Linked DNA regions of Homo sapiens: regions 1 and 3 are each linked to region 2. The links come from fine-mapping of genetic effects on gene expression. A gene starts in region 2. Each other region holds a variant in brackets. All regions are shown on one strand. Distances are between the middles of the regions.

Region 1 (4,195 bases), 21 kb after region 2:
GCTGGGCCTGTCCTGGGAACGTTAACCAACTCAATCCTTGTGATAACTCTGGCTAGTAGACCTGGTTAGTCCCATGTGAGAGATGAGAGCACCTGTACTCACAAAGGGTAAGTAACTTAGGCTGAGGCAGCAGCTACTGTGTCTGCCTCCCATGCTTTCCCTGGCTGGGCTGCCTTTTCTGAGTTCAGAAGAGGGGTGAGTCCTTTTGCTGAGATTTTCCCATCATACTCCCGTTCTTGAAGATGGTCAGCCTGCTTTCTTGAGTAAACAAGGTACAGGATGGCCCTTTTTGCTCATACAGCCCTTGCTAGCTGGAGATCTGACTTGATTCATTTGTCCATCCAGCAAGCAGTGACTGAGCGCCTGTTAGGAGCTGGATGTTGGAGATAGCTGTGAAGGTAGAGTAGAGAGTGCAGGGACGAGTGTGGTCAGGGAAGGTGTCACTGTGAAGGGCAGAGGCTGAGCTGTGTGCATGTCTGGAGAGCAGCATTCTTGGTAGAGGGCACAGCAAGTACAAAGGCATTGGTGCTTTCCTGGCAAGGAGGCCAGGATGTCTGCCTGGCAGTGAGAGAGGAGTTAGGTGGTAGTGAGGACCAACGGGTTGGGGGGTTGGATTGTGTCAAGTCTCGAAGGCCTCTAGAAAGACTTTGGCTTCAGTGAGAGCAACAGGCCATTTGAAGGGTTTGCAGGAGAGGCATGGGATGCTGCTGTCTTAGTTGTGAAGAGTCACCTGGCCCACTGGATTAAGAATCAGTTGCAGGGAGGTAAGATCAGCAGCATGGACCAGTCAGGGGGCTGTTGGAATAGTCCAAGTGAGAGATGATGACGGCTTGGACCCTGGAGGTAGCCTACGGTGGAGATGGGGAGAAGTGGTTGGTTCTGGATAGAATTTGAAGGCATGGTGGAAAGGACTTTCAGATAGATAGAGAGCACAGAATCAAGGGTGACCCCACGGCTTTTGGCCTGAGCAACCGGAAGGATGAGTTTATGGTTGCCGAGACGGGGACTTCTAAGGGTGAAGCAGGATCGGGGGAGATGGGAGGAGTTTGCTTTGTGGATTTGTTGAATTTGAGATGGTTTTCAGACATCCATGTGGAAACGTCAAGCGGATGGTTGGGTAGTCGAGTCTGGCCTTCAAGGGAAGTGAGCAAATTTGAAAGGAACACTTGGGAATTGTCAGAGTAGGAATGCTTGTGAAGACTGGCTGAGATTACTGAGAGTGGGGATGGTGCAGGAGGGGAGGGCCCAGAGGCACAGCCAAGGAGACTGGGAGGACAGTGAGAGAGTCCACCAAGTGGAGACAGCCTCCAGGACTGGGGGAGGGCGCCATCAGCTGTCAGATGCCACTGACAGGTCAAGTAAGATGAGCACAGAGAATTGGATTCAGCTCCAGGGAGGTCATCCGTGACCTTGACGAGAGTAGTTAGGTGGCAAGGTAAAGGAGAAAGCCTGTTTGGAGTGGTTTCAAGAGAGAAGGGGACAAGAAGAACTGTGGATATTAATAGTGAATATAGACAGGGCTTTCAAGAAAATGGATGGTAGCTAGTGAGTGATGTGGGGTCAAGAGTGGTTTTTTGGTTTGCTTTTTTGGCTTTTCAAGACAGAAGAAATTAGAGCAGTTTGTGTGCTGATGGAAATGATCCAGTAGAGAGGGAAAAAAAAATCGATGCAGGAGAGAGAGGAGGGATTGACCTCAGCCCCAAGCGAGGACAGTGCCTGATAGCAGAAGGGGAGGCAGAGTGCTTGGGCTCCCATGCAGGAAGTAGGTGGTGTGTGTGTGTGTGGCGGTGGGGGGGTTGTCGGGGGTTCTCTGCTGGTGGCCTCTGTGTTCTCAGGGAACAGGAAGCAAGGCCATCAGCTGAGAGAGGATTGGGGGAGGTGTGGAGGTCTGACGGGAGAAGATGCTAAAACATTGCCTGGGAGAGTCATGGAGTGAATGGCAGGGGGAGTGCCGTGGGATTCTGGGCAGCTCTAGGGCCGGCTTGAGGTCAGCAGTGAATCTGGAGTGAGACCAGCTGTCACGATTGTGTGTTTTTATCCAGCCACATGCAGCTACTCAGGTGCTGGGCTAGGATTGGCCCAGCTGTATTGGAGAGCTGTATTTAAACAGGTTAAACAGT[A/G]TGATGAAGCAGATGAGGGAGTTGAGTGTTGAGTAAAAAGTGACGTTAATGGTGATAAGAAGAGAGGTGAGGGTATGAGGGGAGTGGGGGACAATGAGAAAGAATTAGGGTTAAGGGGCTGTGCTATGAGAGGGGCTGAAAATAAGGGCGTTGGGGAAATAGAGTGAGCCGGTCAGATAGGCGGTGGGGGTGGGCAAGTGGGATACTTGGGATTGAGATGATGCAGAGGTTGCAGCCACTGGTAAGGATGAGGTCTAGGGTGTGACCTTGAGAGGATGGGTCGCACAGTCACTGAGGAAGAGGAGGTCAACGAACCAGAGGCTGGAAGGGTCGCATCTGGCTATGGAGATGACTGTAAGCTATCACAACAATGATGGAGAGGGTTGCAGTGATGCAGCGGTTATGGTTTTCAAGGAATGATGGGTGCGTAAGGGTCAATAACAAGAAAGAATTGTGGGTGCTGTAGTTTAAGGGCACGAGCTTTGACATTAGAACGTTGCAGAGGGGAGTGAGCATGGAGGGAACAGAAGGGACCTTGAGAAGCAAGCAGGACCCTTTATTTTGCCCAGGCCTAGTAGGTGATGATGTGGGAGAATTAACGACATGGGAGAGGGCGGCCAGGGAAGTGTGACCTCTGCAGAGGGCAAAGGTCAGATGGAGCCAGAGTCACTTCATTGTCTGGGGACAGGTGGAGTGCCAGGTGCTTGGTGCCTTGTTTGTCCCCCTCTTCTCTCCACGTCCTCCCCACTCTCTGCCGCCATCATCCCATGAGTCCTATGCCGAGGGGCCAGTGCACACATTTCCCTTCACCCTCACCTAACTGGGAGATGAGCATTGTTGCCACCAGCCCTAATGTACAGATGGGGAAGCTGAGGCTCAGAGAGACCAAGTGTCTGCCATATGTGAGGGAGGGCACATGCTGGTAAGAGGCAGTGCTGGGACGGCTCAAGCCAGGCGCTGTCACACCCCCCAGTGCCTTTTGCCTGGGTCCCATAGCCTTCCTGCTTCCTTGGCACCTTCTGTGCCATGAGGGGCACCCCCTGCACGCTGTAGCCACTCCCCCGAGCTGCTCTGTAGCTGCACTGCACCTCGAATCCTGCTTGGACGCGAAACCCTCTCTCCCCTCACGACTCCCACATGCTGAGGTGCTTCAAGAGCCAGATTCACAATGTTCCTTTTCCCTTTATAAAGCAGGTGTTATGGACCCCGAACTGTGGCCTCTGAGGAGATCCTCACATGAGCTTTGGGTTGAGTGGGTGAGGGGTTCCAACCACCTGAGACGAAAGGAATTATGCTTTGTGAATAAGGATAGGCGCATTCTGGGGAAGAAGGTCTAAAGGGGGCTCTGTGAGAAGTCCTGCCTTGAGTCGTCTGTGGGGCCCCTCCCAGCTATCCCAAGAGGACCCCCTCGGGTTCCAGTTGCCTCCTCCCAGCCTGGGAGAAGCTGACCTGGGGTCTGTGTGGGGTCGGAGGGGACCCTCCCCGCCCCGCTGAGAGGTGAGTGACGGATCTTGACCTTTCTTTCTCTTGCAGATTTCCAAGCCCTGGATTCCCTCAAGTCCAGCCCCCTCCTCAGAGAATGGAGGCCCTGCCAGCCCAGGCCTCCCCGCAGAAGCCTCAGGCTCAGGCCCTGGCTCTCCCCATCTTCACCCGCCTGATAAGAGTTCTCCCTGCCACTCACAGCTTCTGGAAGCCCAGACTCCTGAAGCTTCCCAGGCTTCTCCCTGCCCCGCTGTGACTCCATCAGCTCCAAGTGCAGCCCTGCCTGACGAGGGCTCCCGCCACACCCCCAGCCCGGGGCTCCCTGCCGAGGGGGCTCCAGAGGCCCCCAGACCCAGCAGCCCACCCCCTGAGGTCTTGGAGCCCCATAGCCTGGATCAGCCCCCTGCCACCTCACCCCGGCCCCTGATCGAGGTGGGTGAGTTGCTGGATCTCACTCGGACGTTTCCATCTGGCGGGGAGGAGGAGGCCAAGGGTGACGCACACCTCCGCCCCACCAGCCTGGTTCAGCGCCGATTCTCTGAAGGTGTGCTCCAGTCACCCAGTCAGGACCAGGAGAAGCTGGGGGGCTCGCT
Region 2 (4,222 bases):
GTTTTATCTGCACTCTGTCTACTGTTTCTGTTCTGTTCTCTTCTGCAGCATCCTCATCCCAGCTCACCAGCTGCTCACACTCTCCCTAAAGCCCCTTGCAATTTCCCATCCCCCAGTCACCTAATAGCCTGCCTGAGCTAAGGACCCTCTTCATTCCTGAGTGTCTGCCAAATTCCACCCAGTTCTGCGCCGTCCCCTCCTTTCCTGAGTTGCCCCCAGTGGCATGGGTCAGGGGGAAAAGGTCTCTTGAAAGTTTTTCTGGGTCTTCTGGGGTGTGATGAGTAAAGAGTCACATATTTCTAACTCCAGCTGGTAATGAGCTTCGCTCTACCTGTAGCATAGCAGTTAGCACGTCTTTTTTGTTTTGTTTTCTTTTTATTATTATTCTTATACTCTAAGTTCTATGGTAAACCTGCACAACGTGCAGGTTTGTTACATATGTATACGTGTGCCATGTTGGTGTGTTGCACCCGTTAACTGTAAATATACCCGTCATTTACATTAGGTATATCTCCTAATGCTATCCCTCCCCACTCCGCCCACCCCGCGACAGGCCCTGGTGTGTGTGATGTTCCCCACCCTGTGTCCAAGTGTTCTCATTGTTCAATTCCCACCTATGAGTGAGAATATGCGGTGTTTGGTTTTCTGTCCTTGTGATAATTTGCTCAGAATGATGGAGTCCAGCTTCATCCATGTCCCTGCAAAGGACATGAACTCATCCTGTTTTACAGCTGCATAGTATTCCACGGTGTATATGTGCCAACTTCTTTTTTTTTTAACTGTCACTTTATTTATTAAAGTCATTTGTTAGATTATGTTTTCCTGAAAGGTTGGGGCTGGGTTTTTTTTTCTGTTTTTTTTTTTTTTCTTTCTTTCCTTCCCTTCCTTTTTTTTTTCTTTTTCTTTCTTTCTTTTTTTTTTTTTTTTTGACAGAGTCTCGCTCTGTCACCCGGGCTGGAGTGCAGTGGCACAATCTCAGCTCACTGCAACCTCTGCCTCCTGGGTTCAAGCAATTCTCATGCCTCAGCCTCCTGAGTAGCTGGGATTATAGGCACCCGCCACCACGCCTGGCTAATTTTTGTATTTTTAATAGAGACGGGGCTTCACCACGTTGGCCAGTCTGGTCTCAAACTCCTGACCTCAAGTGATCTCCCTGCCTTGGCCTCCCCAAGTGCTAGGATTACAGGTGTGAGCCACCGTGCCTGGCCGGGGATGTTTTCACCTTGTTCAAGTTTCCTCAAATCTGAGAAGTGTGCTAAAGTAGTAATAGGCCCTCAATATCTATTTATTAAACCCAGTTGAATTTATTTTGCTAGATAATGCTGGAATAGCCACTACTCAGAGGTTAAAGCTATGAGTTCAGGGGAGAAGGGTGCATTCCTGTTGTCTCTTACCCCAGGATTGATTTAGCAAGCTGGTGTATTGATTGTCAGGGAAATCTTGAGCTTACATATTCTGTACTAATGTCTTCATGTAGGACACATATCAATAGTCATTCTGAACATACAGTCACTGTGATTATGACAGAAGATAACTGGACTGGTGGTGTTAAGGAGGTCTGGGTCCTACCTAGCCTTGTTGCCAACGCACTGAGACCCTGGGCAACTCACTCCCCTTTGGGTCTCAGTTTTCCCATCAGTAAAAGGAGGTTGGGGTAGAAAAACTAAAACATCTTTTCCAGGTCTGGTCTCTGATGTTGCAAAATGCACTCTGGGATTATACGGGGGAGACCTGGCTTCCGCAACCACAGGATGATGTGGTTTCAAATCAGTTCTGGCTCCAAGGTGAATCTGACACCAGGACTTGAACTGGATAAGGCCGTTTGCCAGCCTCTTGGAGGTACCTATAATTTTCGGTTAAGGATGTGAAAATTTTGGGTGTAGACAGTGAACTTGACAGTTCAGCCAGAAAGCAGTGCACCCACGATGACACCAACACCCGCATACTCTCCGCAGCCAGTGGGAGAGGTCGTTTCCTCCCACAACTGTTCAAATACTTCTCTTCTTGTCCCATCGACTCCTTTCCATGACATAGAAACTATTTTGCAGAGAAACGGGCACGCATCATTCCAATACACACCCCCACCCCACCCCTGTACTAAGTCTGATACAATAAAACTACACAATTTCTCTTTAGTATCTAGTCTCGACTGAAGAAGTGTCTGTAGTTTCTAAAGAGCCCTACACACATTTTCTAGGCCGGATTCCCCCTGGGTGAGAGAGGCTTCACGGCAACCACCCTTCCCTCAGGTCCTCCAGAGTCGCTGACGCTCTATGCGACTGTCTCGCAGGCGGGCCCGACTCGCGTCTCTCTAGCCAGCTCATCCTCTCTGTGGCCTGTGTACGGCTTCCGGTGGCGGGACGCGGGGCCGCGCACGCGGGAAAAGCTTCCCCGGTGTCCCCCCATCCCCCTCCCCGCGCCCCCCCCGCGTCCCCCCAGCGCGCCCACCTCTCGCGCCGGGGCCCTCGCGAGGCCGCAGCCTGAGGAGGTAGGTGGTGGTCGTCCCCGGTCCCAGGAAGGCAGGGGCCCCGCTCCCCCACGGGACCCTCGACATGGACCATTCCGCGTTCGCAACCGCGGGGAGCGGGCGAATCCATTATGTGGGGCGGGGGTGAACCGTGGGTCTGGGGCCGCGGGGTGGTGGGAGCGGTGCGAGGGAAACCCTGCACTCTGAGCTGGATTGGGTCGCGTGCGATGTGCGGGCTCCTGGCAGACCCTGGGGTTCCGCTGCTCGTTGCCATGGCTCCCGCCGGAGCGGCCAGAGCGGGCGTCGGGTTGGGTGTCAGCGGTATTCCGGGCCCGGTTCTCCACCCAGGCCTGGACCTGGACCCTCGGGCACTGCAGCGTCCGTCTGTAGGTTTCCAGGCAGAGGAAATCCTGAGACATCCAGGCGCAGCTGGGAGTTGCTACCTGGCTCCATCCGTGAGCACAGCGAGGTGCTGTCTTTCATGCTTATCTGTCTTCCTCTTGAATTCAGATTCCCAACCTGCTGAGCATCCGCACACCCACTCAGGAGTTGGGGCCCAGCTCCCAGTTTACTTGGTTTCCCTTGTGCAGCCTGGGGCTCTGCCCAGGCCACCACAGGCAGGGGTCGACATGGCAGAGACACTGGAGTTCAACGACGTCTATCAGGAGGTGAAAGGTTCCATGGTGAGAATGGCTTGGACAGGTGATACAAGTAGAGAGAAGGAAGGAGGGTAGAGTTTTTGTCCATTAATGAGAGCTTGCTTTGGTAACGTTATTTTGGAAAAAGAAGACTCAGTATAATGTGTACCTAGTGTCTCCACCAACTCAAGGCAATACTGAGAGATAGTCTCAGAGTTATAGGGACCGTATATGCTGTTCAGTTCCCAATTCCTGTTTTACAAATGAGGAAACTGAGAATCTGTTAAGGGTTCTAGATACCAGAGTCTGGTTTAGAATCTAGACTCCTTGGCACCCTCAGCTGTTGCTCCTGCATTGATAATCTGGCCAGTCCACTTGCAGCAGGAATGTGTGTTAGGTAGAGCTGTAGAACCCAGGACATGCTGTGTACTGTCTCCATGCATCTGGGCCTGCTTTTCTTACAGAATGATGGTCGACTGAGGTTGAGCCGTCAGGGCATCATCTTCAAGAATAGCAAGACAGGCAAAGTGGACAACATCCAGGCTGGGGAGTTAACAGAAGGTATCTGGCGCCGTGTTGCTCTGGGCCATGGACTTAAACTGCTTACAAAGAATGGCCATGTCTACAAGTATGATGGCTTCCGAGAATCGGTGAGATGTCCCATGGCTATAAGCCTCCTTTTTACTGCATCTTCTTATTTTAATCTTCTAGAGACTCGAGGTTCCTTCCTCATGTAACCCTGTGATTGCTAGTTTGGGCTCCTTAGAGCAGGGCTGTGAGGCCATCAGGCAATCAGTGTTTGGCTTTGAGCGTTGAAGTCTTGTGAATTTCTGTGTGCCTTGACTCCAGAAGATTTTCTTCTGTCTTGATTTAGATAGTAGTTTCTGCCTGTGGCTTTTATCAAGGTTCAGAATCTTAGCTTGATTTCTTTGTGTGTATGTGTGTTTTTGGTTTTTTTTGGGGACAGGGCCTTGCTCTGTCACCCAGGCTGGAGTGCAGTGGCGCAATCTCGGATTACTGCAGCCTCCGCCTCCTGGGCTCAAGTAATCCTTCCATCTCAGCCTCCTGAGTATCTGGTACCACAGGCACATGCCACCATGCCCAGCTGATTTTTAAT
Region 3 (4,222 bases), 42 kb after region 2:
ACTTCCCACTGAGTCCCTTTCACAACATGTGGGAATTATGGGAGTACAATTCAAGATGAGATTTGGGTGGGGACACAGAGCCAAACCATATCACCCATCCTGTTCATAGATAGTGCCTTCTCACTGTCATATGGTGGAAAGGGCAAGGGAGCTCTCTGGGGTCTCTTTTGTAAGGACACTAATCCCATTCATGAGGGTTCCACCTTCATGACCTAATTACCTCCCAAAAGGCTCCACTTCCTAAACCTATCACCTTAGGGGCTAGGATTTTGGGGAGACACAAACATCCAGACCATAGCAGAGATCCACATTCCACTGGGCAGAATTCAACTCATTACCTCCGCCAACTGCAGGGGAGTGAGAAATGAGGTTTAGCTATGTGGCCAGAGAGAGAGGACCTGACATTGGTAAAAATTTACCCCTCTTGCCAGAGGTTTGCCTTCATTGATATCTAAGGGTCCTTTCAGCCCAGGTATTCTAGAATTTCCCCTAACCTGTGTCATTTCTCACCCAAGCCCATGGCCATTGCCATCCTATTGTCCCTCAGCCTAGTTCTATGTCATCCTGGTTTCCCCCAGACTTGCCAGCCTTTTTCAAGGCCAGCCTTGTCTTTCTCTGAGATTTGGTAAAAGGAGAGCATCCTGGGGGCTTGCCCTGATGGGGGCCTGAACAGGGTCACCAAGTTGTGGCAGGTCAGAGCTACAACTGAACTTAGGAATCATCTCATTTACTAGTGCTTCTTAGCCTTTTGTTTTAATTTTTAATTTTTTTTAGAGATGGCCTCTTGCACTGTCACCCAGGCTGGAGTGCTGTAGCATGATCATGGCTCACTGCAGCAGCCTCAAGCTCCTGGGTTCAAGTGATCCTTGAGCCTCAGCCTCTTGAGTAGCTGGGACTACAGGTATGTGTCACCATGCCCAGCTAAGTTATTATTTTTTTAAATTATCTGTAGAGATGGGGTCTTGCTATGTTGCCCAGGCTGGTCTTGAACTTCTGGCCTCAAGCTATCCTTCTGTCTCTACCTCCCAAAATGCTGGGATTATAGGCTGTGAGCTACCACATCGGGCTTGTTTTTAAAAAACTTTTAAAGGGTTATGGGGACTATTGACCTAATGTGAGAATTTGACAACTGTGGACTCTAGAAAAATGCACATATACACAATTTCACCAGCCAGCCTGAATCCCTGTCATTGACTTTCTGGAACACTGGTTTTTAATCTTCATTATGCATCACAATCTCCTGAGGTGCTTATTAAAAATGCACATTCCTGAGCCTCACCCCAGGATTCCAACCCAGGAAGTATGCCCAGGAATCTGCACTGTGGGAAGCCCCTGAAGTGGAGGGTAAAGAAAGGCTGTGGGCCTCAAATGGGTTCCTGGCTGCACCCCTGGGTGGGTCTGGGCCAGGCAGCCCCTGTGCCAGTCTGCCCAGGGCCCAGCAGAACTGAGCTGGCATGAGCTTTGTCCCATTCTTCCCACTCCCTCCTCTCTGTAGGAGTAGGACTGGCAGGAGCCCAAGCCAAATACTTAAGACTCATTAGAGGAACAAATGGAGCCTGGGCTGATCCCAGCACAGGGGCTCTGTGCTGGGAGGGAGAAGAGGCAGGGGGCCATGCTTCTAGGGAAGTCAGAGGAGGGTGTCTCACACTCTGCCAACATCTGGGGAATGGTTCAGAGCCTTTGTTGGGAGTCAGGGAGAGAGGAAGCCAACACACACAAGCTTTGACCCTAAAGGCAGGTGTCTGACCAATAACACAACTGAGAAAGTAATGATATGTCTGCCATGCAGCCCTTTCTCAGACTATGCCCAGGGTTCTCGGGAGCAGCCTCAGAGGGGCAGGTCTTGGTCTTTTGAACCTGGATTTGGATTTTGGAAATAGCTGAAAGTTCTTTGGCTACCCGTATTGGGGAATACTTTGGACAATCAAGCAGGTTGACCAATTTTGGTCAAAGGTTGCCCTGAAGGCAATTTCTGAAGAGTTGAATGAGCTCTGGAGAAGTCACTAGAATAACTGGACAGCCTTTCAGGGGACCACTTTGAAGCCAACATCTCAGTGTTTGTATTAAAAAAAAAAAAAAAAA[G/AG]GCCTTTTAGAGAGGCTACCTGTGGCCGGGCACGGTGGCTCACACCTGTACTACCCGCACTTTGGGAGGCCAAGGCGGGTGGATCAGTTGAGGTCAGGAGTTCGAGACCAGCCTGGCCAACATGATGAAACCCCATCTCTACTAAAAATACAAAAATTAGCTAGGCATGGTGACGTGCGCCTGTAATCCTAGCTACTCCAGAGGCTGAGGTGAGAGAATTGCTTGAGGCAGAGGTTGCAGTGAGCCAAGATCATGCCAGGTTGGGCGACAGACTGAGACTCCATCTCAAAAAAAAAAAAAAAAAAAAAAGAAGGCTACCTGTTAGAAAGCTGAGTTGTTGTTCCTCCCAGGGGGTTCTTGTTGCCAACTCTCAGAGAGAGAAAGGATCTGGTCCCAATGCAATTACAGTGAGAAATGTCTCAGCACCGTCTCTCTCCTGGCCCCTGCTTTGGAGGTCCTCAGCAAGGGGAGGGCCTGTCTGCCTAGGAATTGGACACCAGGATGATGGAGGATGCCCTTGGGAATGGAACAGCAGTGGAGCCCAGGGAGCAGTCACTGGTGCTCTCCCACGTTTCCCAGGATCCAGGAGCTGCAACTGGTGTTTGGGCCCAAGAACGAGCTGGCCTTTGTCCATGGAGCCCTCAGTATTGGGGTGGTGGTGGTTGGTGTCAGGGGAGGTCTGAAGGGTGCTGCCCACTGCTTGACACTTCCTTTCTCCAGCATCCTGTCTCCTAAACGTAGTCCAGCCATCTGCTGTGGTCATGGCACATTCCCGAGATGGGTAGAGACAGGTGTCCTTCTTGCGGGCAGCTCTGGAGTGAGTAGATCAGAGTTTATATCCTGCTTCTGACTCTTGTGAGCTGGGGACTCTCTCTCTGAGCCTGAGCTTTAAAAGAAGTGCAAAAATAAAGAATCAGCTTTATCTGACTGCTTGAGGTCTGGATGCAGGACAAAGTGCCTGGGACAAACCACACATTCCTGGCGAGTCTCGTCTTGTCTTTTGTTCGTATGGTGAACTGAGAACCCTTTGCAGTCTTCCTGCCTCCCAGACTGATGACACAGAGCAGGCTGAGGCTTGGCCTAGAAGCTGATGGACGAGATTTTCCTGGGGCTGATTTGCCTGGGGCCTCTTGAGCCAGCAGTGTGGGCTTACCCAGGATAGCCCTTTGACCTCTGTCAGCAAGTGTATCATAGATAGAAAAAATGCTGGCAGGTTCAGAAGCACACCGCCCTCCCCCGGGGAGAGTGCCAGGCCCTGGGTGCAGAGCGATAAGGTGTTTTTTTGTTTTTTGTTTGTTTTGTTTTAAGACGGAGTCTGGCTCTGTTGCGCAGGCTGGAGTGCAGTGGCGTGCTCTCTGCTCACTGCAAGCTCCGCCTCCCAGGTTCACACCATTCTCCTGCCTCAGCCTCCCGAGTAGCTGGGACTACAGGTGCCCACCACCACGCCTAGCTAATTGTAATTTTTTGTATTTTTAGTAGAGATGGGGTTTTACTGCGTTAGCCAGGATGGTCTCAATCTCCTGACCTTGTGATCCTCCCACCTCAGCCTCCCAGAATGCTGGGATTACAGGCATGAGCCACTGCGCCTGGCCTTTTTTTTTGAGACATGGTTTCACTCCTTTTGCCCAGGCTGGAGTGCAATGGCACGATCTTGGCTCACTGCAACCTTCGCCTCCTGGGTTCACGAGATTCTCCTGCCTCGGCCTCCTGAGTAGCTGGGATTACAGGCACCCACCACCATGCCCAGCTAATTTTTGTATTTTTAGTAGAGATGGGGTTTCACTATGTTGGTCAGGCTGGTCTTGAACTTCTGACCTCAAGTGATCTGCCCGCCTTGGCCTCCCAAAGTGCTGGGATTACAGGTGTGAGCCACCACGCCCGGCCGATAAAATGGGTTTTAGTTGCTGTCCAAGGACGATTCTAGTTATACTTTTATGTATATAGTACTGTCTCCAAAGAGCCTAACATCTATTCATTTTTTTAAAAAGTAATGTTCATTGAATTTTTTTTCTGATGTCAAAAGCAGTAAGTATTCCTCATAGACCATTTGAAAAATGCAGACCCAGCTACAGACTCAGTTTACTTGCTTGAGCCCAGGAGTTGGAGGCTGTTGTATGCTATGATCGAGCCTGTGAATAGC

Alleles and levels. Positions count from the first base shown, and alleles are read on the strand shown. Sizes are in standard deviations (SD) of each study's normalised expression. Not every link is listed here.
For the expression in esophagus muscle of the gene that starts at base 2,326 in region 2, allele G in region 1 goes with a lower level than allele A (small effect, 0.12 SD a copy in GTEx).

The links. PIP is the estimated chance that this variant, and not a neighbour inherited with it, causes the effect.
Region 1: its variant is the best candidate, but not a certain one, in a credible set for the expression of SSRP1 in esophagus muscle (GTEx, PIP 0.69).
Region 3: its variant is the best candidate, but not a certain one, in a credible set for the expression of SSRP1 in whole blood (INTERVAL, PIP 0.53).

What each region holds. Positions count from the first base shown.
Region 1 is chr11:57,313,348-57,317,542 of GRCh38, reverse strand. It overlaps TNKS1BP1 (tankyrase 1 binding protein 1), which reads left to right. Exons shown (of 12, transcript NM_033396.3): 5 at 3,654-4,195. Among named protein-coding and RNA genes, the nearest start is that of TNKS1BP1, 9.5 kb to the left of the region's middle. The variant A/G (reference allele first, on the strand shown) is at 2,121.
Region 2 is chr11:57,333,996-57,338,217 of GRCh38, reverse strand. SSRP1 (structure specific recognition protein 1) reads left to right here and starts at 2,326. Exons shown (of 17, transcript NM_003146.3): 1 at 2,326-2,488; 2 at 2,978-3,150; 3 at 3,570-3,755. The coding sequence starts at 3,097. It also overlaps a transcript of P2RX3 not described here. RefSeq lists enhancers at 2,188-2,237, 3,088-3,157 and a silencer at 2,408-2,587.
Region 3 is chr11:57,292,104-57,296,325 of GRCh38, reverse strand. No RefSeq gene overlaps it. Among named protein-coding and RNA genes, the nearest start is that of TNKS1BP1, 31 kb to the left of the region's middle. The variant G/AG (reference allele first, on the strand shown) is at 2,083.